Linked DNA regions of Homo sapiens. The protein of the gene in region 2 interacts with the protein of the main gene of each other region in a biochemical or structural test. Each region holds a gene or a part of one and is shown on either strand. Other genes may lie near its edges. The genes, in order: MAPKAP1, AKT1, HSPB1 and SKP2.

Region 1 (7,025 bases), on a different chromosome or scaffold from region 2:
AGTCTTAGATGCCCCTCCTGGAAAGGCATATGAATCCTAGCCCCACTCCACTCTACTGAAAACTCAGTGATTTAAAGCCTCTTGCTTTAAAAAAGGACTTCTGGTTCAAAAGACTGCTATGATCATGTGTTAACATTCATGTAGAAAAAGTTCTAGTCATATTAATAATCAATAAAAATGCAAGTAAAAACTATCGAAATGCCACTGTGTATATCTTTTAGAGTAGAAAAAAAAACTTCTAATACCTTGTAATGGTAAAACTATAAAAATGATTTTAGGAATTCTGTTGGTAACATTGTAAATTAGGACATCTTTCAGAGGGCTATTGTCAATAAAAAGTGAGTCTAAAGATGTTTTTACTCTGACCAATAATCCTACTTACAAGGCATGATCCTAAGGAAGTTGTTCAACAGAATAAAAGGTATATAGATAATGACCATCATCATCAAATTACTTATTAAAACCACACAAGGAAGCAATCTAAATATTCTGTGATCGGCTTCCACTACAACCCATACACTTTTCTTTTATACTGCTTATCACATTTTAATTATTTGACAACTGTCTCACTACTAGATAGTAAGCTCCATGAGGGTAGTGCTGTCTCTGCCTAGATCTCTGGCACATAAATACAGACTGTAGGAATTAAGAACAAATACTGAAACGTTTATAATTTATTATTTTTAGATGGAGTCTCACTTTGTCGCCCAGGCTGGAGTGCAATGGCGCGATCTCAGCTAACTGCTACCTCCGCCTCCCGGGTTCCAGCGATTCTCCTGCCTCAGACTCCCGAGTAGCTGGGATTACAGGTGCCCACCACTGCATCCGGTTAATTTTTGTATTTTTAGTAGAGACGGGGTTTCACCATGTTGGCCAAGCTGGTTTCGAACTCTTGACCCTCCTCGGCCTCCCAAATCCTGGCCTGCCTCGGTCTCCCAAAGTGCTGGGATTACAGGCGTGAGCCACTGCGCCTGACCTAATTTAATGTCAAGTAAAAATAACACAAAAATATGTGTGCTACAAGTGAAACTGAGTAACATATACACACGATTATTATACAAGATTAAAAATAGTTAAGATGGAGGCATCATTGGCCAACTTTTCAATTATTTTAAATATCCTTTAAAGTTATTTTAGTACCTCTGAAATGAAAAAGCAGGAAAAAATTTGCTGTTATTTACACCAAACTTGACCTTGTAGTAGGGATGAAACGGCCACCATGAAAGCCTGAGGGCCCACTCCCCAGCTTACCCCCAGGTACTCAGTTATTCTTTCTTTGCTCAAGGGTAGAAAGAGCCAAAATACTCATATATCATATGTAGCATAACCCTATTTTCTGTAACAATCTCAAACAAAGGCAGTATGTTGAGAGAGACAGGGAAATGTCTTCTAAAGCAATCCCTTTTGAGCAGTGAATTTGCTGGTTACTAACAGCAGGGGGTGCCAAAGGGATCGCTATTGTTCCCAGGAGACAGCCATGAGAAGGACTGCTGAGGCCTAGGTTGAAAAAAAGCTTAGGTTTGAGAGTAAAATCCAAATGCAGCAGGTTTTCCCTTAACAACTGGGACATGTGGATAAAACTCAGGAGCTCATAAACTTGAATGGATAAAAACTACATTTTAATTTTCACTAACTTCTAATATTTTGCATTTCCTTGATTTATAAGTGTAGGCAAACAATCACAGCAGAATCACAGTGCCAGTGACTCTGTCATGAACAGAAGTCATAGCTAACACTACAGCACATTACAGCTGTTGCAGATTTCTCAAATACCATTTATGCTCATCACCGCTTTGAAACAACAGGCTTCAGGAGTTACTGTTAGGTATACAGCTGGATATTGTTTAATCTACTAGTAAAGCCACACATATTACTATATCATGAATTTGTTCAATAATCTGATAACTTTAAATAACAGAATACTTTTATATTCCAGTGGATTTTATTTTATGCATTTACACACGCTTTTCTGAGAAAGGCACAAAAAAAAAGCTGAAGACATGTGCTCAGTCTCAAGGCAGGCAACTGACAGGGAAGGTCAAATTTGGTCTGAGAGAAAATTATTTTAAGTCACAAGAGAGAAGTGGCCACAGTGCACATTTTCAGTTAGTGTGTATTCCTCGCAGAGAAGGTGCAAACCTAGAAGTTTTGCTTCACAGGCTCCCAGTGCACCAGTGTTTCCAGAGGCCTGGCTCTGGACATGCCGTTCAGAGATCTGCTTCACACAATGTGCCACTGCAAAGCAGTCTGCGTAGCCTAGGTGCAGAGGCATGAAATACAATGCGAATGTCGTCCTCAGCATCTCTCTGGGAGTCATCGTTATTACCAGTGGACTCTCCAGATGCCAAATATCATTTATTTGATGAACAAAACCAAAATCAGATCCAAAATGCTAGAAGGTTGGGATGAGATACCGAGAGAAGTAATAGAGTCAGTACTCACATTCGAACAAAGAGTGACTCTTTGGATGTCAGACCAGGAGATGAGTACTTTTCAACCAGGGCCAAAGTACTGAAGCCAAACTTATGAATGGGCTCATTGGAATCCAGCGGGGGGAAATCGGTGTCCACCTCCCCATCATCCTCAGCAATATGCAGGCAGTAGGCACTGACATTGTCACTGAAAGGAAAACCAAAAAGGCGAGTGAATACCAAGGTAGGGAAGGGACAAGAAGACCAGAGGGTATGGTGCACAGCAAGCAAATTGAGGAGACTGCTTTTCTTTACCCCAAGCCTGGTGATACAGTAAAAAATCCCAAATCCTACTTCATTTGATAGAGAGAATACACATGGCAATGCAAAGGGGAGAAAAACAGTGTGAAATGAAGGTCTTTATACTACTCTATTCTTGCAACATTCACTGAGCCCTATTGCAGCTACGACAAAGAACCTAACCTCTTAGATCAAAGGTGAGATTTAGTATCAGCCCTAAAAGCAGCTTACAGCATAGTAGGGAGGAAAAGTAATAAGCATTACACTAGCTACAATACAAATGTAAAAAATATATATATAAAACAGATACAAACAAAACTGTAAAGGGGGGAAGATTATCTGGCCTCGGGGAAGGCAGGGGTCAGAGGCCTTTGATTTATGGTTAGGATTAAGAAAATATCTGGACAGGCATGGTGGCTCATGCCTGTAATCCCAGCACTTTGGGAGGCTGAGGCAGGCAGATCGCTTGATCCCAGGAGTTCAAGACTAGCTAGGCAACATGGCAAAACCCCATCTCTGCTAAAATACAAAAATTAGCCAGACATGGTGGTATGCGCCTGTAGTTCCAGCTACTCAGGAGGCTGAGGTGAGAGGATCACTTGAGCCCGTGAGGTCGAGGCTGCAGTGAGCTATGATGGTGTTACTTCACTCCAGCCTGGGCAACAGAGTTAAGACCCTGTCTCAAAAAAATAAAATTAAAATTAAAAAAGAAAATATTTGTGCTCTAGATCAGGAGAAATACTCAAGGTAACCAAGACAATCCATACAGTTCTCCCTTCTCTAAAGAGTATCTAAGTCAGTTGGTAGAATCTGACTTCAAACACCATGGATCCTTAGCAGAGTAAAAGCAAATGACTGGATTAGTCCTGACACAGATACCTGGTCCTCTTGACTACTTCTGCACACTTCCCACTCCCTAGAATGTCCAGACAGTACTCCCAGATTGCAGTCTTGCCCAGTTTAGAATCAACACATACCCTCTTTGGGGGAAGTAAAAAGTTGATCTGTTCAAAGAGGATGGGAAACTATACCAACATACAGACAGTGTAAGAGTGCAATCAATTCAATTGCTCCAAACCGCAAACCTGCGAGCTTCAGAATTATGCTAGCTTCAGAAGCAGGAACCCAATAGCTCACAAGGCAGTAGAATTCTAAATTCTGCAGCTTAAGTTTGGAGTTTTAATTACATGATTGATGCTTAAATTAATTAATTGCAAAGTGTATGCTAATTGTTTAATTGGTTGGTTGATCTATATAGATCATTTTTTGAATTAAATGAGTTGATTTACCAAGTTTATTGACTGGATGTGACAATGAATTATTTCACTGACTACCTGACTTGCAATTTTCCCAATTAATTCACAAATCTTTAGCTGCAACTCTGCTTATTGCAAGAGAGGGAGCCTACTTCAGGCGATCTATACTCAGTGAGTCTGTCATGACTAAGAGATATTTATTATAAAAAACAAGTAATAAGGACAAATTAAAATTAATGGAAACTGTAAATTTGCTAAATGGATTGATAACAAGAAAGTAATCTAGCTATGTTTGTCACTTTACATTTCAGGTATTTGTAATGCTGTTAAGATATTTAAAATTCATCTTTGAATGGCATGGGAAACTTTTGGATCTCTGCAGCCGGGTACTAACTTAAAAACAGAACAATTAGAGAGGCAAAAGAAAGCACTTTGGATGAGGAAAATGTCATGGTATACTGGCTAAGAGAGCTCTGTGGTCAGAACGAGTTCAAATTTCAGCTCCATGGCTCATGGCTATGTGATTTCAGAGAATAAGCTTCACCTCGAGTTTCAGTTTCCACTTCTATAAAAAGGGTATAATCGTCCCTCAGAGATTGTAAAGATTAGATCAGATAATATATGTAGTGTCTGGCATGTAACAGAAGTAAAAAATAAATGGGAAGGTAACTATAATAAGAAAGTCATATGGAAACTAACTTATAGTTGCACCAATCCTTAAACACAAATTGTGGATGCATATTAAGCAACAATGCATCTGAGCAGCATGTTCTATGTACACACAACTGTAATGGGAGTCAACATGTCCACTGTGTTCCAACCTTGGAACCTTGGGTCACTGAGCCCCCAGGGTTTTATGAACAGGGCAGACATGGATGGAACAAGCAACAGACAGCACAGATTATTTATTGCCATGTAAATCAACCTGAGGAATGTTTGATTCTCCAGCATCACAGAGGTTCAGGGGCAAATAATAAGCCTATTGATCAAAGCAGAAAAGTCCAACAATGATATCAGAAGAATTCTGCTTTGATTGTTAAGGGACATCCCCAAATCCTCTCAAAACAAATTCAATAAATATCACAGGCTAAGATTTGAGATGCAAAAGGTTCACTGCCAAGTGCTATTATTCTCCCCAGTTCTTAAATATGAAGTGTGAAATCATTCATTCAAAACACATTTGTAAAGTGCCCCCCTGGGCTGTGGCCTGTCCTGAGCATCAGGAACAGAGGAAGGAAAAGAAGACTGATTCCTGCCATATTATACAAGATGAATAGAAGCCTCTTCTGGGTCATCAGTAAAGTCTAGCAGTAAATAGTGCTCCAACTCCTCTGACCCCTTAATTGAAAATCTGAGGAGATAATGACTAAAATTCTATATTCTACACATGGACATACTGGTTCCTTTGGTGCTTTTATAAAGGAATCATTAGTAAAAGAAGCTACTGTGATATTTTGACTTCTAAAACTGCTTCAGGACTCCAAATTAGTACTAGTACAATACCAGCAGTATCATTAGCTACATTTATTGAGTACTATAAGCCAGACACTCTGCAAAGCGGCTTAGATATATAAGCTCACTGAAACTTCACATCAACTTTGTAAATGAATCATTTATATTTCTATTTTACAAATTAGATAACTGAGCCTCAATAGGATTAGGTAGCTTGCTCAAGATTAAACAGCATGTAAGTGACAGGGCTGAGATTCAAATCCAGGCAGCCAAGAGCTGTCCCTCTTGACCCCCACCCATTCCTCTGCCAAAGCCACAGTGTGTCAAGACTTCCTGAGGCACTTGAGAACCCAATCACCTATGGAAATATGACACACTTTGATGAGAAGAAGGAAACCATGACATATTACTTATAAAAAGTTAGATTTAGTTCAACCTCCTTGCTTTTACAGATGGGAAATGGAGGCAGAGAAAAGAGGGATAACATGCTCATGATCACCCAATTAAACAGAGGCAAAGCTGGTCTTGAAAACTCTGGTGTCCCCACTTCTTGTCCATTATTCTTTAAACAAATAAAAAACTGGTGGACTTTGAAATGGGGAGAGAAAAGAAAGGGGGCAGCTCTGGTCCCTGCCTCAGGAAACCCCCCGATACAGACATCTCAGAGTTTACAACACAATGGAAACAGGGGCACTTCCCATGACACAGCTTGGTGGAAAGAACAGGGATTTTGCAGACACAACTGGTTTTAATGCTAACTCAAATTCTTAGACCAAATCTCTTTGAGCTCCATTTTCTTATCGGAAAAACAGCTTTCCTTGATTTCTCTAGGAGAATAGCTTGGATCTCCGAAATTCAAGCAATTCTCCTTTGTGGTCTTACAAAATTTGGTCAATATTTCTGTATATCACTAATCATATTGCTTTTTCCTATTTCTGCATCTGTATTCTAAAGAGCAAGGATTCTTCTATTATCTCTCCATACTTACTAAAGAGTAAAATGACTGGCATTTAGAAGGTACTTAACAAACATTTGTTGAATAAATGAAGATATGAATGTGTAGACTCAATCACTCTATGAAGAAAGCAAAGGGTATTATTATTATTATTATTATTATTATTTTTGAGATGGAGTCTTGCTCTTGTCACCCAGGCTAGAGTGCAATGGCACGATCTCTGCTCACTGAAACCTCTGCCTCCCAGTTTCAAGCGATTCTCCTGCCTCAGCCTCCCAAGTGGGATTATAGGTGCCTGCCACCACACCTGGCTAATTTTTGTATTTTTAGTAGAGACAGGGTTTCGCCATGTTGGCCAGGCTGGTCTCGAACTCCTGACCTCGTGATCCACCCGCCTTGGCCTCCCAAAGTGCTGGGATTATAGGCGTGAGCCACCATGCCCAACCAGCAAAGGGTATTATTAGTGAGGTATGTGTTAATGAGAAGAGGGAAAGTAATAACCTTCTTTTTGTGTTCTTGCTTTTCACAGTGATATCTGTTAACCAAATAGGGCTTTCTAGGCAATGCACATGTGTCAAAGATTGTAATTCAAGACTAGAGGAGAAGGCAGCACAGGCAAAGGTGAGGATGAAAGGGGAATTTTTATAGTCC
Region 2 (7,025 bases):
CTCCTCCCAGACCCTGGACCAGAACCTGGGGGTCCAGCAAGTTCAAGGGAGTCGGAGGACCGCAGGCCTCAAAGAAAGGAGGGCAGAGCTACTTGGAGGGGAGGGGCCGATGCAGCACATGGGGATGGAACCTAAGGCCAGCCCCTGGTGGGCACCTCGCTCTGCACCACAGACCTGCCTGAGACAGATCCCAGAGGCCTGCAGTTACCCAGCCCTGCCACATACAGATGGCCCACAACTGGGCCCTAATTAGCCACTCAGTCACACCTGCATGCCCAACCCGTGTCTCTGGCTGCCACAGGCAGAGCTGGGCTCCAGGACAGGGACACAGAAAATGGGGACCATGCTGGGAGGCCCACGTGTCCCCAGCCTCCCACCTAGCAGGGCGCCTGGGTCTCCATGCCAGGGTTCCCGTCTGACATGGGTAGGGTCGCACCTGCCCCCGCTACAGGTAAGGAATAAAGCCACAGCAGGGCGGAGCAGGGAGCGTCACATGTCTCTCATCTCTGTGGGATGCTCCGGCCAAGGTCCCCCGCTGGCCTTTCTGCACCTGCCCCTCCATGGGCAAGGAGGCAGCCTCACAGAGGGGAAGCAAAGGCTCTGCCATGGGGTCTGGAGGCTGAGAGCCTGTGCAGGGAGAGGCACGAGCTCTTCCTCGAGTGATGGAGGCTTCAGAGCTGGAGACCCCAATGGACTCTTGCCCCCTCACCCAAGGGGTTTCCCAAGGAGAGGCCCTGATGGGCTCTATCTAACCCCCTTGGAGGAGGGGCCCCCGGGGCAGCTGTCCACCCTGAGACTGGGCTCTGCTGCCACTTGTCCGGACCCTCCAGCTTCCAGAGCATGGGCACCAGGGAACTGCTCCAGGGTCAGCCAGCCTTGGGACTCGGCCCAGAGACCCCCGCCCAGCCAGCCTCGGCCTCAGGACTCTGCCCAGAAACCCCTGCCCAGCCGGCCTCGGCCTCGGGACTCAGCCCAGAGACCCCGGCCCAGCCAGCCTCGGCCTCGGGACTCGGACCAGAGACCCCCGCCCAGCCAGCCTCAGGACTCAGCTCGGAGACCCCTGCCCAGCCAGCCTCGGCCTCGGGACTTGGACCAGAGACCCCTGCCCAGCCAGCCTCGGCCTTAGGACTCAGCCTGGAGACTCCCACCCAGCCAGCCTCAGCTTTGGGACTCAGCCCGGAGACCCCTGCCCAGCCAGCCTCGGGACTCGGCCCAGAGACCCCCACCCAGCCAGTGCTTGTTGCTTGCCAGCCCAGGACTTGGAGGCTCCAGGGGACCCCCATCGTGGGGCCTGGTGGGCAAAGAGGGCTCCAGCCAACCCCCCAAATCTGAATCCCGAGAGGCCAAGGGGATACTTACGCGCCACAGAGAAGTTGTTGAGGGGAGCCTCACGTTGGTCCACATCCTGCGGCCGCTCCTTGTAGCCAATGAAGGTGCCATCATTCTTGAGGAGGAAGTAGCGTGGCCGCCAGGTCTTGATGTACTCCCCTACAGACGTGCGGGTGGTGAGAGCCACGCACACTCTACCCGTCAGACCCTCGCCAGGCAGCCAGGCAGGAACTGGGTGTGCCAGGACAGATGTGCCTGGGATGCCTGAGTCCCAGGGGGCAGGCGCGGTACGGGAGCTGTTTCTTAGGGCCAGCGACAGAAACGGCCCTGGGTCAACGGGAAGGCAGACTCGCCCCACCACAGCGCCCCTCTCAGAAGAGCCACCCCGAGCTGTGTCTGAAAACGGGCTGGGCCAGCTGGACGCAGGGGATGGAGTACCATGGACAGGAGGCTGGGAAGAGGTCTGGGCCAGTCTGCACAGCCTTCCTGGAGGAGGCAGCCCTAAACCAGCCAGTCCCCAGCAGGCACCAGCAGCAGCTCGGGCCCCAGCTATGGCCACAGGGGCTGCGGGGCTGACAGCATTCCCCAATCAACCAGGGTCGGCCAGGTGGCGACAGCAGGTGACAGTGGCTTGTGTGGGCTGCCCAGCATGGCCGCCCCCCCCGCCCCGCCGCCACCCACCAGGAGGATGGAGCATGGCGTCCACAGTTAGAGGTCAGCACCACTCAGACTGAGGGCCGGGCTCGCGGGACAGGACTGCCCACTGCCGTGGGATCGCACTCCCTGTCTAGGGGCCTGGAGCACCGTCTTGGGGACTGCCGATGAAGCCAGACACGGAGGTGGCCCAGCCAGCTGGGCAGGGGCCCCAGGGCACAGAGGGTGCCAAGTCCCCAGGCTGAGACCCACACTCAGGCCCTGCCGCCGTCGGCCCTGCCGCGTCCCACCCGTGGGTCATTCAGGTACACGGGAACATTCTCCCTCAAGTTTTGCAGCATCAGCCGTACGCAGGCGTTCACACTTCAGAATCAGAGCAGCTGTCCTCGGTGATAGCCCAGCAAGTACCATTTTTCATACTGACACTCGGAAAAAAATGTTCCACTTACATTTTGCCAAGCAAGGAGTTTGAACAACAGGGAACTTACTAATTAGGCAACTGCTTCATCTGAGGGGTCACTGGGCAGGGGTTAGGGAGGGGGCCAGGGTAAGGGGTTGGGGTCCCTGAGCTCTGGGGCCTGGGTTTTCATGCCACACTGAGCCCCAGACAGGGACACCTGGAGGGATGTGGGGGACAAGCAATTGTCCCATCACCAGACCACCCACCACCCAGTCCTGCTGGGTCTTCGTGGTGAGCCCAGACGCGTCCAGCCCTCCCTGGTGCACAGGGAAGTCCCAGCAGGGCAGCAGCCCCAGGGGAGCTCAGAGGACATGGGTCATGGGCATCCCAGCAGGCATTCTACTTTCCAGGGAGCCACGGGGGAGTTCTTTAATAGAGGTGAGCCACCAAGGCTCGACACATGGCCACCCCCCGGCCAGGTGACCTCTCCCTCCTACCCCGGCCCCAGCTGCCCAATGCCCTTCCCACCAGCACCACGGGGCGTGGTCTCCACAAGACCAGCCCTCTCTCTGCCCAAGCCAGGGCTGCTGGGGGGATGCTGGTGGAGGGTGGGGACACCCCACCCAGCAGGGCCTGAGTGTGGGAAGAGGCTGTTGTCAGGTCTGGGGTGGACCAGGAAGGGGACAGCCACAGCCCACTCATAGCTGCCTGACACCTCTGGAGGACGGCCAACACCCAGTTGCAGGGAGGATGATCCAGGGCCCAGAATCTGCCCCTGTGCCCAAGAGCACTCATCAGGAGACCCCACCCACTCCGCAAGCCCTCCATGCCCCTGCCAGTGGGCTGCCGAGCAGGCGTGGTCCTGCCACCCTTGGGTGCCGGCTCCTGTCCCTGACCTGGGATCTCGCACACCCCCGAGTGTGCACATACACGCACATACGTGCCACGCAGCTCCACCCCGCCTCCCACGTCCCCTCCCCCAGCCACAGGGCCCCTGCAGGTGCAGCGGGCAGGCAGGGGCGCTCAGTGAGAGCAGAGCAGGCTCAGGGGGCTGCATGCAGCCCACCCCACCCGTCCCCCATCCTGGGCCACCCCGCTGCTCACGCCCACCCGCCTGCATGCCAGTCTGGAGCTGTCGGCCCCTGATGGAGTGCCTCCCATCCTGCCAGCTGCCACTCCCCGGGACGCTAACTGAGCGGGAAGACTGATGAGCGCCCAGGCCCGGCACCCCTGAAACCCATCTTATCCACCAACTGCTGCCAGCCCCCACCGTGCCCAGCATGGCCCCGTGCTGCCCCCGAGCACGCAGCTCCCGTGCCCAACCCCAGCCTTGCCCCTGACCCTGCTGCCACAAGCCCAGCCCCAGGTTCTGTGAGCTGCATCTGGGGGGTTCTGGGAGCTGGATCTGGGGGTGCGGGAGGGGCAGGCCCAGGGGCGGCGCTTACCAGGCGTGGGGGGTGGGAGAGGACAGGTGCCCAGCCCCGAGCATTCCTGGGGAGTCCTGGGATGGGCAGAGGCCCAAATGGGCCCTGGGCTTTCAGTGCCTTCCCCTCGCCTGGCCCCACAGACCCAGGGAACAGACGGCGATCAGGGCCTACCCCAGGAGACGGGTGTGAGTGAAGGGGCCTCACGTGGCCTTTGTCTTCGGCATCCCAGCCCAGCACACAGACCCCTCCAGGGGAGGAGCAGGATCCCCAGGGACCCGGGGTAAGGGGTCCAGAGACACACAGTTCTCTTTCTTCATCTCTCGCCTAGAGGGTCAGCTAGAGGATCACTTGGGGGGGTGCCAGCTGCAGCCAGGGCCGTGGCGCGCATCTTAACGAGTTCAGCCCAGACAGGATGCTGGGTGGGCGGCCAGCCCCGACAGCAGATGCGGCAGGGCCCCACTACTCCCTGATCCAGGACTGGGGTGACACAGGACGGGGCAGGTGGAGGAGACAGCCACCCGGGGCCCAGCATCACTGTCCTCATGGCCACAGGACGCCTGCAGGCCTGCACCTGCCTACTCCGGGTCCCTCAGGAGGGTGGGAGCACAGACACATCAGCCAGGGCTGCCCTCCCAGACCCCTCACACAAAGAGACCAACCCACATGGAGTCTTCTCCTTCACTATCCTGAGGGTCCCCAGGGGAACTGGAACCTGTCATCCAGGACTTAACTTGAGTTCCCCACCCTGTTGTGGTCCTCAGATGCCCCCCACTCGAGGCAGGAGTACAGTCCACTTGAAGAGTGGCCTCTCAATCCCTGACACCCCAGGAAAAGTGCCCTGCATTGCTGGGGGAACTGGAACCAGGCAGTAGGGACCTCGTCCTCCACACCGACCATGGGAAGCACCCGCCACAGAGGGGCCTTCCATCTCCCCACCATCAGCCAGCTGGCATCCCCCCACCCCACCCCAGTCACCCCCCCAACACCACCCCACCCACCTGCCTGCACAGCTGAGGGCACCAAACACAGAGTGGGCACAGACCCCCAGGTTGCCACGCCAGGCCCTCACTCCAGACGGGTACAGGCAGGCAACAAATGGGGAGGCCAGGGCACGCCCCACCCCACACACAGCCAGAGTCATCTCCTGCCAGCAGCCACTCCCAAGGGCAATGGAGACCGCCCAGCATTCAGGCCCAGGGGGCCTCTTCAGTCCCTAACTCTCACACCCCCATGCTGGGCTCAAGAACCCCCAAGTCCCCACCCGCTGCACATGTTTCAGACCCGGGACCTGGAGCAGGCAGGGTCCCAGTGCAACCCCGGCCTGGGCCTCAGGGTCTGGCAGGGAAGACGGCTAGGTGCCCCTTCAGAAATGTCAGCAAGTCCGGATGGGGGACCCCACACCACTGCCAGAAGACCTGAGTGGGGGGCCGAGTGGAGGACGGCACTGGGGACTGGTCCCACCTTCCTGCCCCATGGCTGGTCCCCTGGGCAAGGGGGAAGCAGCAGCTCCGGTCCCACCCTCCTGCCCCATGGCCGGTTCCCTCGGCAGCGGGGAAGCAGCAGTTCCAGTCTCACCCTCCTGCTGGCCCCCTGGGCAGTGGGAGGCAGCAGCTCCGGTCCCACCCTTCAGGGTTCTCTCAAGGCCAGCCCTGGGCCAGGTGGGAGCCACCCTGACCCTTAACCCTGTGACACTGCACCTATCCAAGACCAGGTCCTGTGAAGCCACAAGGGCAGGGGCTCCTGTGCCTGATGAAACCCGTAACCCTCCCCACCAGCCAGCACATCCATGGCCCAGGGCTCCAGGCATGGGAGGTGGCTGCCCTCGGTGGGGGGTAGGCAGTTGGCCAGACTCCTGTCCCTGCCCGGGGGGACAGCGGAGACCAGGCTCCCTCGACTCCTCCTGCACCTCCTGGGCCCCACACAACCCCAGCCCTGGTCCCTCTGGCATCCCGATGTCCCGGGTGGCCCTCCGGCAGGAGTGACCTTCCATCCCCAACCCCGCTCATCCCCAGGAAGGGGCTGGAGCACCCCCAGGGAAAGAGGGTTCCTTCCCAGAAGTCCTCCTGGACCAAATACCGGGGTTCTGAGAGGAAGCTGCTCCTGCCTGGCCTCCCCCAACCCACCCCACCACCACCACGGGGACCACATGGACAGTCACAGGCAGCCCACCCTCTCCACGCCTCACACACGTGTCCCAGGCCACACTGTGGGTCAGGCCCCCCAAAGCGGCACCCACTTAGACATGGGGGCCAGGACCCACGCGCCATGGGCAGGACTGGGTGGGCCCCTGAGGGCCAGCTGGTGGCCCTCCACGTCCCGGGACTGACCACCTCCTGAGCCACCAGGTGTGTCAGCCCCCCTAGGCCACCACGTCCTCAGCTCCCTGAACATTCTCTCAAAGTCCCCAGTTCTCAGGAAACTGCTGGATAAACACTTCGCAGAGACGGTGGTGGCAGCGGCTGGCAGGGTGCCAGGCGGCACCGAGCTGCTTCTCCACAGCAAAGTGAGCCCAGCAGGCCCTGGGAGCGGGCGCCAGCTGACAGCGGCCACCGTGGTCCCCACTGCCGACACATCCATCGCCCCGACAGCTGCCGGGGGCCCATTTACCTTCTCCAGCACATTGAGCAGACGGCTCCGCTGACGGCAGCCCATGAGGGGCCCGCAACCCACCCTCCCCGCCTGCCAGGAGACCGCACAGCTCACCGCGAAGGGCCCGGCCTGCCAGGCCTCTGCCCGGGCCCGGGAGTACACACCCCTTTACCAGCAGCCCTCGAACCCTGTAAACAACCAGGCTGGGGTGGGGGCAGGGGAGGGGCCACACAACGGAGGCCAGCTGACCCCACTTGGCTGGAGCCCCCAGGTCTGTGGGTGAAATACATCCACTGCTCCTCCCGGCACAAGCCCTTCTGAGGGGGCACAAGTGGCCAGTCTGCACAAGGAGAGGTGTCTGTTCCCGCCAGGCAGAGGACTGGCGCTCCACCTGCCTGGGCCTCGCCCAGCCCAGGACCCATTCTGCTCTCCCAGAAAGCCCACCAGGCAGGCAGGGCGGGCAGGGCTCATCATGCCCATCAGCTCCCTGGGAAAACGGAGACTTAGGGGAGGTGACCCTCAGAGGCAGATCATGACCAGAGAGACCCCAGGTCCTGCCGCCAAGGCAGGGGTTGTAACTTGACACAAACTGCAAATTCTTCACCTCCTTCCGCTCCACCATGGAG
Region 3 (6,708 bases), on a different chromosome or scaffold from region 2:
ATCCTGACTAACACAGTGAAACCCTGTCTCTACTAAAAAAAAAAAAAAAACAATACAAAAAATTAGCCGGGCGTGGTGGTGGGCGCCTGTAGTCCCAGCTACTCTGGAGGCTGAGGCAGGAGAATGGCGTGAACCCGGGAGGCGGAGCTTGCAGTGAGCCAAGATCGCACCACTGCACTCCAGCCTGGGTGACAGAGTGAGACTCCGTCTCAAAAAAAAAAAGAAAGAAAGAAAGGCATCTAGGTCGGGCGCAGTGGCTCACGCCTGTGATCCCAGTGCTTTGGGAGGCCTAGGCAGAAAGATCTCTTGGGGCCAGGAGTTCAAGACTAGTCTGGGCAACATGGTGCGACACCTGTCTCTACAAAAAATTTAAAAATTAGCCAAGTGTGGTGGCACACATCTGTAGTCCCAGTGACTCAGGAGGCTGAAGCAGAAGAATCACTTGAGCCCAGGAGGTCAAGACTGCAATGAGCTATGATCACTCCACTGCACTCCAGCCTGGGCAACACAGCGAGACTCTGTCTCAACAAAAAAAAAAAAAAAAAAGGAGAGAGAGAAAGGCATTTATGAGCTCTCTCTCAAAAAGGAAACTGAGGCTCAGAGAAGGCATGAGGACTTGCTGCTTCCCCAGCTCATCAAGGTGAGTGGCCTGGAGTCTGCCCCGATTCTGGGCCTGGGCAGGGCAAGACTTCAGTGGCCTTGGCTCCCCATAGAAGTAGGAGGAGTGGAGCCTCAGTCCCAGGATAGGGACAGCAAGTACAGTGGGACAGAAGAAGTGGGAGGCCCTGGGTACTAGAGAGGCAGGAGGTTGGCTCTGAGAGCACTTTACCGGAGACAGCAGAAAGCCATTTAATCTCTGTGCACAGCAGTTTCCTTGTCTAAAAACCAGGGATAACAGGGCCGGGTGCGGTGGCTCACACCTGTAATCCCAGCACTTTGGGAGGCCGAGACAGGTGGCTGACTTGAGGTCAGGAGTTTGAGACCAACATGGCGAAACCCTGTTTCTACTAAAAATACAAAAATTAGCCGGGTGTGGTGGCTCATGCCTGTAATCCCAGCACTTTGGGAGGCCAAGGCAGGCGGCTCACTTGAGGTCAGGAGTTTGAGACCAACATGGCGAAACCCCGTTTCTACTAAAAATACAGAAATTAGCCGGGTATGGTGGCACATGCCTGTAATCCCAGCCACTTGGGAGTCTGAGGCAGGAGGATCGCTTGAACCCAGGAGGCGGAGGTTGCAGTGAGCTGAGATTGCGCCACTGCACTCCAGCCTGAGTGATAGAGTGAGACTCTGGCTCAAAAAAAAAAAAAAAAAAAAGACAAAAAAAAAAAAAACAACAACAACTAAAACAGGGACCTAAGTCAGGGGAGAAGGAAGGCTGGAATGGCCATGCCTACAAAGACAGGAAAGAGGGAATGTCAGGGTTGTGGCAGGAGCCTAGGGCAGCACCCTCCCTCCAAGCTGGGAGATAGGAGCCAGGATCCCATTGGTGTTTAGATGGATGAGGTAGGGTCAAGGGGCAAGCTCCAGGCTCTAAGCACTTCTGTGCAGACTCTACTACTTGGAGCTCCCCTCTCCCTCTGTGATGTGGGCATCAAAATCTGCAGAAAGGGAAACTGAGGCCTAGAGAAAGGAGGGGATTTGCCCAGAATGACACAGGAAGTCCAGACTAATTCAAGTTTGCGGCATTTGAGGTTCCTGGCCAGTGTTTCTTTTTCTTTTTTGTTTTTTCTTTTTTGTTTGAGACAGAGTCTCGTTCTGTCACCGAGGCTGGAGTGCAGTGGCGCGATCTCAGCTCCCCGCAACCTCTGCCTCCTGGAATGATCCTCGTGCCTCAGCTTCCCCAGTAGCCGGGATTACAGGCACCCATCACACCTGGCTAATTTTTTGTATTTTTGGCAGACACGGGGTTTCGGCATGTTGGCCAGGCTGGTCTTGAACTCCTGAACCCAGGCAATAAGTCTGCCTCAGACTCTCAAAGTGCTGGGATTACAGGTGGGAGCCACCACGCCCGGCCAACCAGTGCTTCTTAAGGAAAGATACATATAGTAGGAGATGTGACAGTAATCTTCCTCCTGGCCCCTCTCAGCACTGTGCCATGGAGGTTCTGATCTGGGCCAGCTGCGCTGTTAGGGGAAGGGGGAAAATGGCCAAACCCCATGTATTCTCCTTCCTTTTCCCTCTCTTCAATCCCAGGCAGGTAACAATAATTATGATGTACCAGGCTCCGGGCCAAAGTCATCACCTGCATTAGGTCACCAAATCCTCAGGCCAACCCATTACAGTCATGAGTCACTTAATAACAGACACATTCAACAAATTCCTTGTTAGGCAATTTCATCATTGTGGGAACATCTCAGAGTGGACTTACACAAACCTAGATGGTCTAGCCTACTACACACCTAAGCCATATGGTCTAGCCTACTGCTCCTAGGCTACAAACCTCTACAGCATATGACTGCACCAAATATTGAAGGCAGCTGCAACATGAGGGTAAGTATTAGTGTTTCTAAAGATAGAAGATGGCCAGGCGCGGTGGCTCACGCCTGTAATCCTAGCACTTTGGGAGGCCCAGGCGGGTGGATTACTTGAGGTCAGGAGTTCAAGACCAGCCTGGCGAACATGGTGAAACCCCATCTGTACTAAAAATACAAAAATTAGCCAGTGTCGCGGCACTTGCCTGTAGTCCCAGCTACTCAGGAGGCTGAGGCAGAAGAATCACTTGAACCTGGGAGGTAGAGGTTGGAGTGAGCCTAGATCAGGCCACTGCACTCCAGCCTGGGCGACAGAGGGAGACTCCATCTCAAAATAAATAAATAAATAAATAAATAAAACATAGAAGATGTACAGTAAAAACACGGTAATTGTTTTTGTTTGTTTGTTTTGAGACAGGGTCTTGTTCTGTCATGCGGACTGGAGTGCAGTGGCACCATCAGGCTCACTGCAGCCTCGACCTCCTTGGCTCAAGTGCTCCTCCCACCTCAGCCTCCTGAGTATCTGGGACTACAGGTCCACGCCACCATGCCTGGCTAATTTGTTCTGAATTTTAGTAGAGATGGGGTCTCACTGTGTTGCCCAGGCTTGTTCCAGCCTTCTGGCTTCAAGTAATCCTCCCACATCAGCCTCCCAAAGTGCTAAGATTACAGATGTCAGCCACTGCACCCAGCCAGTAATATAATTTTATGGGACCACCTTCATATTTGCTGTCCCTTGCTGACTTACACATCTTTATGCAATGCATGACTGTTACCATCATTATCATCTCTATTTTCCAGATGGGGAAACTGAGGCACAAAGAATCTAACTTGCACAAGTTCATCTGCTTAGTGATGGAACAAAGATGTGAATTCAGGCAGTCTGGCTTCAAAGTCCACACGCCTAACAACCACACCAGATTACTAGATTGCTTTTTTCTTTTTTCTTTTTTTTTTTTTGAGATGGAGTCTCACTCTGTCACCCAGGCTGGAGTACAGTGGTGAGATCTCGGCTCACTGCAACCTCTGCCTTCTGGGTTCAAGCAATTCTCCTGCCTCAGCCTCCCCAGCAGCTGCGATTACAGGCGCCCGCCACCACACCCAGCTAATTTTTGTATTTTTAGTAGAGATGGGGTTTCACCATGTTGGCCAGGCTGGTCTCAAACTCCTGACCTCTGGTGATCCTCCCACCTCGGTCTCCCAAAGTGCTGGGATTACAGGCGTGAGCCACCACGCCCAGCCCAGACTGCTTTATTTTTGTATTTGTATTTATTCATTTACTTATTTTGAGACAGGGTTTTGCTCTGTAGCCCAGGCTGAAGTGCAGTGGTGCAATCCAGCTCACCACAGCCTCTACTCACCGGGGTTCAAAGGATCCTCCTGCTTCAGCCTCTGGAGTAGCTGGGGCCACAGGCATGCACCACCATGCCCAGCTAATTTTTAAATATTTTTTGGTAGAAGTAGGGTCTCACTATGTTGCCCAGACTGGTCTCAAACTCCTAGCCTCAAGGGACCCTTCTGCCTTGGCCTCCCAAAGTGCTGAGATTACAGGCATGAGCCATGCACCCAGCCCCTTTTTAAAATTTTTTTGAGAGACAAGACTTTGATCTGTTGCCTAGGCTGGAGTGCAGTGGTGAGATCATAGCTCACTGCAGCCTCAACTCCTGGGCTCAAGCACCAGACTCCTTTTATCACATTCTATCTCACACGCGTGTGGTTCCAATCCTGCCTCTGCCACTTCTCAGTTGTATGCCCCAACCCAACCTGTCTGGCTCTGTCCTCCTTAACAGAAGGACGGCCCTGGCCACGGGCCACAGCCAGCAACGCTTAAGCACCAGGGCCGGCGAGTGCCCTGCCGTGGCACGGCTCCAGCGTCGCGCTCTCGAATTCATTTGCTTTCCTTAACGAGAGAAGGTTCCAGATGAGGGCTGAACCCTCTTCGCCCCGCCCACGGCCCCTGAACGCTGGGGGAGGAGTGCATGGGGAGGGGCGGCCCTCAAACGGGTCATTGCCATTAATAGAGACCTCAAACACCGCCTGCTAAAAATACCCGACTGGAGGAGCATAAAAGCGCAGCCGAGCCCAGCGCCCCGCACTTTTCTGAGCAGACGTCCAGAGCAGAGTCAGCCAGCATGACCGAGCGCCGCGTCCCCTTCTCGCTCCTGCGGGGCCCCAGCTGGGACCCCTTCCGCGACTGGTACCCGCATAGCCGCCTCTTCGACCAGGCCTTCGGGCTGCCCCGGCTGCCGGAGGAGTGGTCGCAGTGGTTAGGCGGCAGCAGCTGGCCAGGCTACGTGCGCCCCCTGCCCCCCGCCGCCATCGAGAGCCCCGCAGTGGCCGCGCCCGCCTACAGCCGCGCGCTCAGCCGGCAACTCAGCAGCGGGGTCTCGGAGATCCGGCACACTGCGGACCGCTGGCGCGTGTCCCTGGATGTCAACCACTTCGCCCCGGACGAGCTGACGGTCAAGACCAAGGATGGCGTGGTGGAGATCACCGGTGAGCCCCCCTGCTCCTGCAGGGGAGAGGAGGAGGCTAGCAGGGCGGGCAGGGCCGGGGGCGTGCGGTTGAAACGGGGGTCCCGGGGGCCTGGGGAGTTAAACGTTGGCCCAGCACCGGGAAAAACAGGACTCCTGATTCCCTTGCTCAGGAATTGGGAGTGCGGGTCGCTTCTAAGGGCGCTTTCTGCTCTGTAATCCCAGCGCTTTGGGAGGCCGAGACGGGAGGATCGCTTGAGGCCAGGAGTTCAAGACTAGCCTGGGCAACATAGCGAGACGCGCCCCCCCGCCCCGACCCCGCGCCATTACAAAAAAAAAGCAAACAAAAATTTTTTTAAAGATCATCGATGAAGAGAGAAAATGCGCTTTTCTACAGAGTCCCCTTCCCACCCACAGCCCCATCCCCAGATAAGCGGGGAGTTCCCTGGCGCGGTGCCAGTTTCTAGCCGCTGAGTGGGCGTGTGCGCGGCTCCAAGTGCGCCTGCGTACTGCTCACTCCCCAGCTCCGCGCCCTGCTCCGTTCCTCCCAAAACTCTGAATCGAAGAACTTTCCGGAAGTTTCTGAGAGCCCAGACCGGCGGGCACGCCCCCATCCCCAACCCCCTCTGTTAATCCCTACCAGCCTGCAGTCCTGGCTGCTTCCAAGCAGGAGGTGGGGCCTCTGGCCTAGCGGGGCCGAAAGGCAGTCCCCTCCCCCGCAGTCTGATTTCCCTCTTCCCCCCAAAGGCAAGCACGAGGAGCGGCAGGACGAGCATGGCTACATCTCCCGGTGCTTCACGCGGAAATACACGTGAGTCCTGGCGCCAGGTCGGGGTGGGTGGGTGGCGTGGGGGTGGGGTCAGGGAAGAGGGCACAGGGACCCACCCGGTGTGTAATGTAACGCTTGCCTTTCCTCTCTGCACGTCCAGGCTGCCCCCCGGTGTGGACCCCACCCAAGTTTCCTCCTCCCTGTCCCCTGAGGGCACACTGACCGTGGAGGCCCCCATGCCCAAGCTAGCCACGCAGTCCAACGAGATCACCATCCCAGTCACCTTCGAGTCGCGGGCCCAGCTTGGGGGCCCAGAAGCTGCAAAATCCGATGAGACTGCCGCCAAGTAAAGCCTTAGCCCGGATGCCCACCCCTGCTGCCGCCACTGGCTGTGCCTCCCCCGCCACCTGTGTGTTCTTTTGATACATTTATCTTCTGTTTTTCTCAAATAAAGTTCAAAGCAACCACCTGTCACTGGCCCAGGCCCTGGTGTTTGTGGAAGGAAGCCTCAGGCACCTGCCATTTGCTGGCTTTCAGGAGTCATCTTTGCTCAGGCCCGTGCTGGGCCATGTGGGTACACTGGTGTAGGTTGCTGGACACAGGCTGACTCACATCCATAAAGACAGAGGTCTTAGGGCCGGGCGCAGTGGCTCATACCTACAATCCCAGCACTTTGGGGGGTTGAAGCAGGAGGAGTGCTTGAAGCCAAGAGTTCTAGACCAGCCTGGACAACATAGTAAGACTGTCTCTAAAAAATAAAAATTAGGCAGGGTGGTACTGCACGCCTGTAGTCCCAGCTACTCAGGAGGCTGAGGCAGGAGGATCGCTTGAGCCCAGGAGTTGTGAAGGGTACAGTGAGCTAACATCGTGCCATTGCACTCCAGCCTGGGCAACAGAACAAGATCCTGTCTCAAAACAACCAAAAGCCCAGAGAGAAAGAGTGAGACCCCATCTTTAAAAGAAAAAAAAAAAAGGTCATGATTGCAAGGTC
Region 4 (7,221 bases), on a different chromosome or scaffold from region 2:
GCGAGCAACCAACCAATCAACTAAACAACCAATCTATCAACCCTTCTGCAAAGGAAACCAGATGGGAGAATTTATGAATATACTTAAATTACCTTGGGTCTGCAAGACTTCATCTTTAAATGTTTAATCTGTTTCTTCTTCGCCATCATCCCCCACCTGATTTCAATTTAGACTCTGATCACCTCTTCCACAGATGATTTCAACAGCCTCCTAAATTCTGTTGACTTTAATGTGGGAATATATCCGGAATCTGACCACCCTCACCCCCAACAAGACTTCAAGCTTTGGCCAGGTGTGGTGGCTCATGCCTGTAATCCCAGCACTTTGGGAGGCCAAGGCTGGAGGATCGCCTGAGTCCAGGAGTTTGAGACCAGCCTGGGCAAGATGGTGAGAACGCCCCCGCAACCTCCATCTCTACAAAAAATAAAAAAATTGCTGGGCGTGGTGGTGCATGCCTGTAGTCTCAGTTACTTAGGAGGCTGAGGCAGGAGAATCGTTCGAATCCAGGTGAAGACAGTGAGCCAAGAGCAGGTCACTGCATTCCAGCCTGGGCAACAGAGCAAGACTCCGTCTTGAAAATATGAAATTTAAAAAAGACCCTAAGTTTCTACCCTTGATGCCCCTGCAGCTGAGTCTCAACACATCAGTGTGTCATTTTTAGAAGGTTAAATCAGGTCCCATCACAACTCTGCTCAACATTACCTCCAGCCTGATCTCCCCCGACTCTCCCTTTCGCTCATTCCACTCTTAGAATATGGCTTCCCTGTTCCTGGAACAAATACGTCACATTTATGCACCAGGGTCTTTGCAGTGGCTGTTCCTTCTGCTTGGAGCTCTTTTCTCCAAGATATTTGCATGGCACACTCCTTGCCTCCTTTATGTCTTTGCTTAAAGGTCACTGTCCAATTGAGGCTTTCTCTCAATACCTGGTTTAAAAGTGCACTCTATCTTCCCACCCCAAGACCTGCATTCCCTCTTGGCTTGTTCTATTTTTGTTTTTAGCCATAGCTCTTATCACCTTCTAACATACTATATAAAAATAGTTATTGTGTTTATTGTATTCTCTCACTAGAATGGATGCTCCCTGAGAGCAGAAATGTTTGTTGTGCCCACTCCTCTATCTCCAGCACCTGGAACACGGCCTAGCACATGGTATGTGCTCAGCAAATATTTGCTGTATTACTGTTTTAAATAGCTTACTAGTAAGAAAAACTGATAACCCCAGGTCAATGCCCTGTTTATCCTATGGCTTTTGCATACTCCAGGGTTCTGGTTCACTCTGGGAGGCACTCGTTCGCCTGCTTGAGGAACTAGGGGATGGGGAGCTATTAAGGAGGGAAGATACAGTAAGTTCTACATTTCAGTCAATCCATTCTAGTTCGGGGGATAGATCTGGGGAGAAGAAGGTTGGAATTATGAATCCACTCCAATAGTTCAGGCAAGAGACGACGAGAACTTGAGAAATAGTTACCAGAGAAGAGGGAAAGATGCGATGAATGACTGGATGTTGGGGGGCGGTGGGAAGCTGACTGACTCTCAGGTTTTCGGGTTGGGTGATTAAACAGATAGTGTCAGCAGTAATGGAGACAGAACATACCAGGAGAAGCCAATATGGGGGTGGGAGTGGGCCTGGGGAGATGTCTCCCCCACTTAGGTGAACGTTCACTTCGCAGTCCACTGATAAATAACTAAAGTGATTAAGGCAAAAAGATCACTCAGGGGTACAAAGCAAAAGGAATCCTACAAGAAGACCACTGTTTATGTTTCTGTTAAACGGTGAAACTGAGCTGGCCTTGAGGCAGGCAGATTCCCTTCTAAGGAAAAAGGCAGGAATGTCTTCTCATGGGTTAAAATTTTCAAGGTGATTATGCACCAGAACATACATATATATATATATATATATATATATATATCTACCAAGATTCCTGCATACTTGACGACTTGCCCTATTTTGTTGAAAAATAGCTTCAGAATTAGGCAATCTTAAAAGGAACCCATGCTAAAGATCTCTGAACAAAGGTTTCCCAACAACATAGCTAAATCCACCCTTTGCATAACTGACATTTTTACCCTCATGTCCTTACCTGGAAAGTTCTCTCGATTTAGCTTAGGCCTGCGGACAATCACAAAGTCTTTGTCACTCCCTTTGCTCTTCAGCCGTTTCCGTGGGGGGCTCTCCGGGTGGCCCAGGTTTGAGAGCAGTTCCTGGGGGATGTTCTCACTGTCGGGCTCCTCTTTCTCCAGGGCGGAGACCCCCATGCCTGACAGCAGTTCAGAAGTCTTGCTGGAATCCCATCCCCACGTGAAGCTGGTGGCAACGTTGCTACTCAGGTCTGGAATCTCCTGGAGGTGCTTCCTGCAGAAGTGCACAATACCCCCGGTTCCTTTCGAAAACACACCCATAAATAATTTCAAGGCAATTAAAGAAGCTGCAGTTTATGCATTGTAGGAAACCTTCACAGCAGCTAACAGAATCGCATTTTTTATGTGCCTGCGGCGAGTTACCAAGAAAACGAAGAAATGAAAAGAACAAATCGAGAAGGCTTTTTGACTTACGATCCTGCAGAAGGCCTCAAGAATTTCTCCCAGTGGAGGGAACAGACAAGGAGAGAGACAGGGCAATCATACACTGATTGAAAACGGTGGCAGAAAAGCCCAATTAGGGAAGCCAAATAAAACCACACGCTGATCCCCGCACTAAGGCATCCATCCATTCACACTTTCCCCAAGAAGGGGCTAAGCAACCATTCACTTAACAGCATTACTAACAATATTAGCCAGTAGCGATATTCGCGGCCTAAAAGAATTATTAAGAGGGTCCATTTCATGCTCTTCCCCTTTTTGCAATCCGTTTACCTGTGCATAGCGTCCGCAGGCCCGGGAGTTTAAAATACGTGCATTAACTGCAGAGCTGCTCGCCTCCCAGATTCCCGCTTTGGCGCGCGGCGGCTCCGAGCGTGCTGCTCGGGCCCCCAGCAGCCAGACCCGCTAAGCCTAGCAACGTTCCATCCCCACTGCGCGCGCAAGGCTCTACAGCCCGCTCTGCTTCGCGGCCGCACTGAGGCCCAAGGCCTGCTGGGAATTGTAGTTTCCGTCCCGCTTCGTAGTCCGACGGGCTCGCCCTTACTTCCTTCCCTTGCAGCTTTACCCGCCTTCGAGATACCCACAACCCCCCGCGGGAGCGGGACTGGTCGGCCCACGGGGTAGGCGGGGAGGCGGAAGCGGGCGGCGCTACGGCTGACTGGGAAATGTCAGCCGCTGGACTGTAGACGGATTTTCCTTTCTCGGGAGCCCGCAGGCCTTCTGGTGATCGCCAGCGCTGTCGTCTCTGAGCGTGGATCCCAGAACCTGGACAGCTGTGGCGGCCGCCGTTTCCCGGTCCCGTCCAGACGCTGTCTGGCGAGATCGGACGGTGAGCCTAAGGCGGAACGCGTGAGGCGCTTTTGAGTCTGGGGTCCGGGGCCGAGAGCAGGCGGAAAGAGAGGGGACCCGGCAGACCCCGAGTGGCCGCCGCTGCGGGGCCCAAGTCCTTGGCTGCTGAGTGGTGACAGTAGCCCAGCCCGCCGGCCAGGTGAGAGGCTGCGAACTGCTGGCGTCGCACCTGTTCGTCCTTTTGCCAGGAAGCTTCTTCCTCCGTCGGGGAGAAGGCGGCCCTAAGAATTGGGTCTGTGGACGGGATCCTTCCTTTATCTGTAAAATAACGCACAACAGCTAAACACGCCGTTGGAACGAGAGACAATGGTTTAATTTTAGGGGAGCCGGAGACCCCAGCGGGTCCTGTGTGGTGGGAAGGCTGCGCATGCCCTTGCAGCCTTGACAGGTCTCATAAATAGCAACATGGGAATAAATGAAAGGACTGTATTTTGCAACGAGCTTTACCCGTGCACGCAGGGGGCCTCCAGCAAAGCCATTTGGTTGCTTGCTGTCGCTCAGCTGGCTACGTGTGTTTGCGTCGCCGCCTAAAAGCGAGCTGCTTTCAGCCTATCTCTGCTGAGAAGAGTTTGGGGGCAGTAAGAGTAGGGAGCGTGACATATTCCAGGTACAATGACCATGCGAAATCCATTGGGCAAACTATACTACAACTGTGACCCCGGGAAAACAGTGGAAGAGGGAAGGGGGATGAATTCTAAGCCTCATAAAAATGAAGATTTATAAAGTTCATAAGGAAGCATAACAGCTTCATCGCATATTAGAATATTCAGTGATGCTGTATGACACACCCTCTGGTTTCCTTGAAAAAATGATTCGCTCTGTAGTGAAATTAAACCTCCCTTGTGCAGGTATATGCTTGTTTCAAGCTTGGTCCTTAGCTTGAAAAGTAACTGCCTCTTGAGGAAGGAATTCATGAACCTTTAGCTCGTTCTTGAAAGATGAGATTGGTGTAAAGAAGGGATCTGTTCACAACTTGGTTTTGATTGGAACTAGGTGCAGAATCCTAGGCTAAGCCGTTCATCAAACTAATGTTATATGGAAAGCATTTTAAAATGCAATATCCTGATGTTTTACAGAAAGTGACCTTTATGTTACTTTGGCTAAGGAGAAAGCATTTGCCTTTGTTTGAAGCTACGTCCTTTCCCTGAAGATTGCAACTCATAGGAGAAAATATTTTTGACACAAAAAATTATAGTTTCCTTCAGGAAAGGGAACAAAACAGAGAGAGCCTGTAAGCTAATGGAGGAGAAAGAATAAACAAAAATATTTAAGATGCCATAATGAGAATAAACAGTTTTGAGATGTAAAATAATTGGGAGAGCCCACTTCAGATATAGATCTCATAGATAGGAAGGTTTAATCGATGAGATGATTCTAAATTTAAAGATGAGAAATATCTTTGTTCAGTCTTGGTTTTACTAGGAGTTACCTGGGAACTAGAATACTTGCAACATCTGAATTAGTGAACACAAGATCCTCTCTAGGACTTCAGGGAGAGCCTGTCAGTTTTGAAATTCAGTTTGATAGTTTGCCCCGGTAACAGACATACTTCATCTTCCTAATATGGGAATAATTTTTTTTTGCCTTCCTTCTAATCATGACTATTGCCTTAATATAATAAATGCAAGTTTAAATTGGTACATTAGATTCTTTTTAACGTAAGGAATTGTGTCCATTGAAGACGAGATTAGTAGGTACATAGAGGTTGCTATCTGGTCATAAAGAACTGCATTGTGATTGCTACTGATGTATCTTATTTTTTCTGATTAATTTTATTTTTATTTTTTGAGAAGAAATTTCACTCTTATTGCCCAGGCTGGAGTGCAATGGCGCAATCTCGGCTCACCATAACCTCCACCTCCCATGTTCAAGCAATTCCCCTGCCTCAGCCTTCCTGAGTAGCTGGGATTACAGGCATGCGCCACCACGCCTGGCTAATTTTGTATTTTTAGTGGAGACGGGGTTTCTGCATGTTGGTCAGGCTGGTCTCGAACTCCCGACCTCAGATGATCCACCCACCTCAGCCTCCTAAAGTGCTGAGATTACAGGCGTGAGCCTCCGTGCCCAGCCGATTCTTACATCTCTTTAAAAGGAAGACGGTCCACCCTTCTTTGTTTCTCCATCCTGCTGTCTAGATGATGATAGGATTCCTGGAGTTCCAGCATCTGTCCTGGAACATAAGGATTAAAGCCACCTGCTAAGGATGTGGACTATAGAAGGGGCCTGGGCCTCTGATAATCTGCTAACTTGCCATAACCACCTATCTCAAGACTTACACGAGAAATAAATTCTGCATTGTATAAGTCTGTACTATATTGGACTTTTCTGTTATGTGTAGCCAAACTAATCTTGAATAATGTATTTCCAGAACTGATAGTCTCTGTGGTGGTGGCAGCTACCTGTTTACATAACCCTTATCACCCCCTAATGTATTTTTTTTAATTGCCTGTTTCTTCCCACTAGACTTTTTAAGGGCAGGGACTTTGCTTGGATTTTTCTATCTCCAGCCCCTTGAACAGAGCTCACCATATAGTAGGCGTTCAGTAAATATTTGCTAAATGAATGAATGGTGCTTGGAACTAAGTAGATCTTTAATTCATTGTAATTTAATGCTCTAAGATAGGCAGCTTGGGGCAAGAACAAACGGATTCTAATTTACTCTATGTTTTCCACTTTTCCCATGTAGAGTACAGTCATATATTACCCTTAAATCAAGTAATAGTAGTATAATCTGTAATGTAAAAAGTTTGCGTTAAATTCTTTATTAAACATGACTAAGCATTCTGTCCTGATATATCTAAAAGAAATGGGAGAAAGTTTCTAATTTGTTCCCTGTGAAGACTGAACAAAATAAATCATTAAGCAATTTAAATTGCATTAAGAAACTATGTCTAGATTAGAGAAGAGACATGTAATTATGATCCAGGCTCTGTAGTAAAGATGCCTCTATTTGAATCCCAGCTTTACCATTCACCAGCTCTGTTAACTTGGACAAGTTACTTAACCTCTCTGCACTGTTTTTTTTCTGTTAAGCAAGGAAACGAACAGCCCTTTCTTACTAGGTTGTGAGGTCTAATTTGATAAAGCTTGGCAGGTACTAGTATTAATACAATGCTTAAAATTTAGTGAACACATTCTAAATGTTAGCTATTCGTTTTTTGAAATTATTTTATTATTAGGAAGGACTTTACAGATTATTCTCTATCAAAATGTCTTGCAATTTCTATGTATGAAATCTTTAAGAATTCAGTAAAATTTTAGTTCTTTTTTCTTATATGCTTACATGATTGCTACCTCTTCTCTTCATGCCTTGCAAAAGGTAAAGCAGGACAGTATGCCACTGTCCTCAGGGGCTTGTCACATTTTGGAATTCAGGTTACCTGGTTGGTTCGCCAACTCAGCTCTTAGGTACCTTTAAAAAATATTATGATGGTTTTTTTTTTTTTTTCATTTTTCGAGTGGGAGTAATAGTCTCTTGCAGTAGTCTGTGTCCTAAACTGAACTCTCTCATACCTGAAATCTTTAAATATGTGAATAACGATTATGTTTGGAAGATTTAAATTTAATTATTGGTGGAAAATTGTTGACTTAATCATTCACTTCTAATTCTGGTTCTTTTGATTTTTCATAATTAGGATTTTGAGTTGTCTCCTGGTTTTTATTATTTTGCACATATCTGAGTAAAAATACAGATATGTGAAGTTAGATAAAATTTCCAATTGGAACCTAATGATTCATCAGACTCAGATATTTAAGTTAACAGTATTTGAGAATGATGAATCATTAGGT

Evidence for each region.
Region 1: of the proteins of AKT1 (region 2) and MAPKAP1, one has a biochemical effect on the other in vitro, tested with the Homo sapiens proteins (3 studies listed by BioGRID, with this or other methods).
Region 3: the proteins of AKT1 (region 2) and HSPB1 form a complex in vitro, tested with the Homo sapiens proteins (3 studies listed by BioGRID, with this or other methods).
Region 4: of the proteins of AKT1 (region 2) and SKP2, one has a biochemical effect on the other in vitro, tested with the Homo sapiens proteins (4 studies listed by BioGRID, with this or other methods).

What each region holds. Positions count from the first base shown.
Region 1 is NC_000009.12:125,557,191-125,564,215, forward strand, and holds part of MAPKAP1 (target of rapamycin complex 2 subunit MAPKAP1), read right to left. Parts: exon of another isoform or gene 6,545-7,025; intron 2,620-6,544; coding exon 2,443-2,619; intron 1-2,442. UniProt on the Homo sapiens protein: Component of the mechanistic target of rapamycin complex 2 (mTORC2), which transduces signals from growth factors to pathways involved in proliferation, cytoskeletal organization, lipogenesis and anabolic output.
Region 2 is NC_000014.9:104,778,729-104,785,753, forward strand, and holds part of AKT1 (RAC-alpha serine/threonine-protein kinase), read right to left. Parts: intron 1,489-7,025; coding exon 1,360-1,488; intron 1-1,359. UniProt on the Homo sapiens protein: AKT1 is one of 3 closely related serine/threonine-protein kinases (AKT1, AKT2 and AKT3) called the AKT kinase, and which regulate many processes including metabolism, proliferation, cell survival, growth and angiogenesis.
Region 3 is NC_000007.14:76,298,107-76,304,814, forward strand, and holds HSPB1 (heat shock protein beta-1), read left to right. Parts: upstream 1-4,566; 5' UTR 4,567-4,606; coding exon 4,607-4,970; intron 4,971-5,695; coding exon 5,696-5,759; intron 5,760-5,877; coding exon 5,878-6,067; 3' UTR 6,068-6,186; downstream 6,187-6,708. UniProt on the Homo sapiens protein: Small heat shock protein which functions as a molecular chaperone probably maintaining denatured proteins in a folding-competent state. Plays a role in stress resistance and actin organization.
Region 4 is NC_000005.10:36,147,906-36,155,126, reverse strand, and holds the start of SKP2 (S-phase kinase-associated protein 2), read right to left. Parts: upstream 3,017-7,221; 5' UTR 2,865-3,016; coding exon 2,857-2,864; intron 2,357-2,856; coding exon 2,085-2,356; intron 1-2,084. UniProt on the Homo sapiens protein: Substrate recognition component of a SCF (SKP1-CUL1-F-box protein) E3 ubiquitin-protein ligase complex which mediates the ubiquitination and subsequent proteasomal degradation of target proteins involved in cell cycle progression, signal transduction and transcription.